2 separate regions of the Homo sapiens genome follow, and region 1 is linked to region 2. Evidence: fine-mapped expression QTL. Tissue or cell type: iPS cells. Region 2 holds a variant in brackets; the other region holds the start of a gene. All regions are shown on one strand. Distances are between the middles of the regions.

Evidence for each region. PIP is the estimated chance that this variant, and not a neighbour inherited with it, causes the effect.
Region 1: it holds the start of USP40, and the variant in region 2 is fine-mapped to the expression of USP40 in iPS cells (HipSci, PIP 0.91).

The regions. Positions count from the first base shown.
Region 1 is chr2:233,565,658-233,568,268 of GRCh38, forward strand. USP40 (ubiquitin specific peptidase 40) reads right to left here and starts at 1,125. Exons shown (of 32, transcript NM_001365479.2): 1 at 1,027-1,125.
Region 2 is chr2:233,356,277-233,359,040 of GRCh38, forward strand. The region is part of intron 1 of DGKD (diacylglycerol kinase delta); the gene reads left to right. Among named protein-coding and RNA genes, the nearest start is that of DGKD, 3.2 kb to the left of the region's middle. The variant CT/C (reference allele first, on the strand shown) is at 1,261.

The sequences.
Region 1 (2,611 bases), 210 kb after region 2:
TGTTGTTTCTTAGAACACAGGACTACTGTTTCTATGTACAGTAGTTGGGTTTTGGAGGCAGCAAGATCTAGATTTTTTTCATCCCTATCAGGACCCTAACTACCTGTGTGACCCTGGATATGTTAATCTGTTTTCTTATGTGTAAAATAGGATACCATCTGTCTCTTCGGGTCATTTAAACTATCCAATGACATAACGAAAGAAGGGCAGTTAGTGTACAGGGTTTGGCCCACAATAAGTAACAGCTGTTTTTAAAAAGGCACGTTCACATCACTAATTTTTTTAAAAAAGAAAACCTGTTGCCACAACTAATCCACTGCTGGGACGGCAAAGCCAACCCTAAATTCTGAGAATCAACTCTCTAAAATCTCTGCTTGTCACACCCTTCAGTACTATATACCAGATTATGACATTTAAATTAAACAGATCAAGTTAACTTTTTTTAGAGCACTTTAGTACAGTCCCGAAGCTGTTGGGCCGGAAGTCAGTTCACTGGGGAGGGAGGGGGGAAGGGGAGCGGAGGGCGGGGAAGACTGCCACTAAAATTATCAAGCCTAAAGGCCTTCCAGTATGTATCCACTAATCCCATCGTTAGCCCTGGGGGCCTAGGTGACTTCCCCAAGGTTTCACATCGAGTGTGGCGGAGGGTCACTTGGAGATGAGAAACGTAAAGCGCCTAGCATAGGTACCAAATGACAGGAAGCGCTGAAATGCAATTATTTTTCTTTTCCTCAGAAGAAAACTAAAAAAACACAACTCGAGAGTCTAGCCTCGAGCTCGTTGTCTGCATTCCTGAATTCCCAACTCCTACGGCCGGCCGAGGCCCTCCAAGCCACCACAGGCCCAGGGGCGCAAAAAGGCAGAGGTCCCCGTGGCCCGAAACCACTGCCCCGACTCCAGGAGAGCGCCGCGTCCTCAGGCAGGCCTGGGCAGCCTCTCGCCTCGCCCTCCTCAGACTGGGCCACCAACACTGTCCCTACGCTTCCCACGTCCCTCCCAGGATCCCCGGGCGCCAGCCGCACTTACTGCCTAAAGCCCAGACCCCCGCCCTGGCCAAAACGCGAAGCGAACGAACCCGCCCCAACTGGGCGCCGCCATGTTGGCGAGGGCGGGTCTCCAGAAAGTGATTTATGGATCGTGGACTATGCTTCCCAGGATGCCCCGCTGGAGCGCCGGCCCCTCGCACGGGGCCTTATGGGAAATGTAACTCTTCTGCTCCAAGAGTTTGGGAACTGGAGCGGGAGCGGGAGCGGGCAAGGTGAGCTCGCTTACAAGTCCGCTGGTGAGTTCGCGGGTCCACTCGGCCAGCGGACCACTCATTCGTTCACATTTATAAGATTATAGCTATATGATCTTATATAAGATTATAGCTATATGATCTTATATAAGATTATAGCTATATGATCTTATATAAGATTATAGCTATATGATCCTTATATAAGATTATAGCTATATGATCTTATATAAGATTATAGCTATATGATCTTATATAAGATTATAGCTATATGATCTTATATAAGATTATAGCTATATGATCTTATATAAGATTATAGCTATATGATCTTATATAAGATTATAGCTATATGATCTTATATAAGAGTATAGCTATATGATCTTATATAAGAGTATAGCTATATGATCTTATATAAGAGTATAGCTATATTATAGCTATATAACCTTATATAAGATTATAGCTATATAACCTTATATAAGATTATAGCTATATAACCTTATATAAGATTATAGCTATATAACCTTATATAAGATTATAGCTATATAACCTTATATAAGATTATAGCTATATAACCTTATATAAGATTATAGCTATATAACCTTATATAAGATTATAGCTATATAACCTTATATAAGATTATAGCTATATAACCTTATATAAGATTATAGCTATATAACCTTATATAAGATTATAGCTATATAACCTTATATAAGATTATAGCTATATAACCTTATATAAGATTATAGCTATATAACCTTATATAAGATTATAGCTATATAACCTTATATAAGATTATAGCTATATAACCTTATATAAGATTATAGTTATATAACCTTATATAAGATTATAGTTATATAACCTTATATAAGATTATAGTTATATAACCTTATATAAGATTAGTTATATAACCTTATATAAGATTATAGTTATATAACCTTATATAAGATTATAGTTATATAACCTTATATAAGATTATAGTTATATAACCTTATATAAGATTATAGTTATATAACCTTATATAAGATTATAGTTATATAACCTTATATAAGATTATAGTTATATAACCTTATATAAGATTATAGTTATATAACCTTATATAAGATTATAGTTATATAACCTTATATAAGATTATAGTTATATAACCTTATATAAGATTATAGTTATATAACCTTATATAAGATTATAGTTATATAACCTTATATAAGATTATAGTTATATAACCTTATATAAGATTATAGTTATATAACCTTATATAAGATTATAGTTATATAACCTTATATAAGATTATAGTTATATAACCTTATATAAGATTATAGTTATATAACCTTATATAAGATTATAGTTATATAACCTTATATAAGATTATAGTTATATAAC
Region 2 (2,764 bases):
TATTAGTTGGAAGGGTTGGTTAGGGCTGAATTTCGAAGGGGTGGTCCTTTGAGGGGTTTGCTTTTTGGCCTTGGGCAAGAGGTGGCCACAGAGGATTGTTCAAAGTATGGGGGTGATGGATCAGATGTGCTTTTGGGAAGATCTCCACATAGCCCTAAATGATACTGATAGGAGTTGCTTTCTCCTGTTGCCCAGGCAAGGTACTGACCAGTGTGGGGTAGATCATGTGATTTACAAGGTTGATTAAGATCAAGATTGTGTTGAGAGAGATTTGATTCCTGGGAGATTCCAGTGTTTAGAATTTTGTTGGTTAGGAGGTGTTTTTGCTTTCCTTCTTTTTTCTCCTAAAACAATAGCTGCTATACCAGCTGTTCTGGTTGAGGAGGAGTGATGGGTAGACTGTTAAAAATACACCCCGAGGACTTAGAGTTTCTGAATACAGTCACATCTGCTGTACAGATAGCTTAAGGCTGATTTTTCTTCTGAGTTGTTAAGAGATTGTCAGAATGTGGGAATGCGAGGTTGACTGTATGTAATAGCTCCATTTTTTTTTTTTCCAGCAGATAAGCCATTCACAAAATTCCTCTGGTATCTATGGTACATAATAGAAACATCAAAAATGGTATGGGGTAGCAGTCTGAGTCTAAAAAGAAAAACAGAACTCACCTTAAGTATTTGGAACAGAAGGAATGTAATCTAGGGGAGTGGTCACACAGGTGATGTGAGAACTGAGAATGCAGGCTGCAATGAGGCAAGCCGGAGATGAGGCAACAAGCAGGAAACTGCTGCCACCCCTAAGTTGGAGGGTGAAGGAAGGAGATGGCATTTCAGACTCCAGGGACAGCTGTCACCCACCAAAAACTGGGGTCACAAGGGGTCCATCTGGCAGTGGCTGGAGCCTTGCAAGGGCACAGCTGCTGCTGCGGATGTACTGTTCCCCTCCTGCCTGGGAACCCTGGCCTTGCTGGGGTCACCTCCTCCACAACTTGGACTGGAGCAGAAGGACAAAGAATGGATCTGAGGACAAGCTGGCCCAGGACCAGAACTGTATGTATGTCAGGCTTTTAAAATATTAGTCTAGTGCAAGTCAGAGCTGTCTTAATGAAGAGAAAAACAAAAGAGAATGTCTTAGGGCAGTGCTCCTCAAATTTTAATGTGCAGACACATCTCCTAGGGATCCTGTTAAAATGATGATTATGGTTGAGTAGGTCTAGGGTGGGTGGGGCCTTAGAATGTGCATTTCTTTTTCTTTCTTTCTTT[CT/C]TTTTTTTTTTTTTTTTTGAGACAAGGTCTCACTTTGTCACCCAGGCTGGAGTGCAGTGGTGCGATCTCAGCTACGGCAACCTTTGCCTCCTGGGCTTAAGTGATTTTCCTGCCTCAGCCTCCCAAGTAGCTGGGACTACAGGCAAATGCCACCATGCTGGCTAATTTTTGTATTTTGTTGTAGAGATGGAGTTTCCCCATGTTCCCCAGGCTGGTCTCAAACTCCTGAGCTCAAGTAATACACCCACCTCAGCCTCCCAAAGTGCTGGGATTATAAGCTTGAGCCAATGCACCTGGCAGAATATGCATTTCTAACAAGCTCCCAGAAGATGCTGATGCTGCTGGTCCATGGACCAGACTTTGAAAAACAAGACCTTATGGCACACATGTAAAGAGAAGCCTCTCCAAACTTCAAATAATTCTTCAGGTTATAGATCTTTAGCATATTGAAAATTTGATGTGTGCAGATTTGTGATGGCCATTTATCAGTTTAGCATTTCATGCATGTCTGATTTTTTAATATGTTCGAGCTCTTTAGAGTTGAAGCTGTCCACAGCAAAGACATTACTTCATTTGTATTTCCTGACTACAGTACACAGTAATGACTCTGTAGAACTGCATAGCTAGAATGGAAAGAAAGAAAATGGAGCTAACACTCCGACCAGCACATTCACCAGCACATTATAAGGTATTTTGAAATTTCAGTGAAGAACCGTGTAATTCTGCAAAGCTATCAGTTAAAAGAGTTTAATTTATTTAAAAGTTTCTAGAAAGTTAACATTTTTTGGATATGAGCATGAAAGTGCTTGGATTCCTGATTTTAAATTTAAACAAAGCATTTTTTCCATTGTGAAATGAAGACTAGTAAAAATTAGGTAAAGGGTTTAAGTTGTAAAAAACTTAAAAAAATGCACCGCAGTTTTATGAGATATAATTCACATGGGATACAGTTCAGTGGTTGTTAGTATATTCGCTGTTTTGCAACCATCACCACAGTCAATTTTAGAACATTTTCATCACCCCGTTTCCTCTCAACTCCCTCAACCATAGGCAACAAGAATCTACTTTCTGTCTCTGTGTTTGCTGATTCTGGTCATTTTACATAAATGGAATCATACAATATGTGGTCTGGCTTCTTTAACTTAGCATAATATTTTTAAGGTTCATCCATGTCATGGCATGTATCGGTACTTCATTTCTTTCTGTTGCTGGGTAATATTCCATTCTACAGGCACACTGTATTTTATTTATCCATTTATCAGTTGATGGACATTTGGGTTATTTCTACTTTTTGGCTATTCTGGATAATGCTGCTGTGAACATTCATGCACATGTTTTTGTGTGGACATAGGTTTTCATTTATCTTGGCTATACACCTAGGAGTGGAAGTGCTGGGCCATATGGTAATACTACCGGACTATTTTCCAGCTAAAAAGCTGCCGTAACATTTTACATTCCCACCAGCTGTGTATGAGGAGGGTTCCAATTTTTCCACATCCTTGT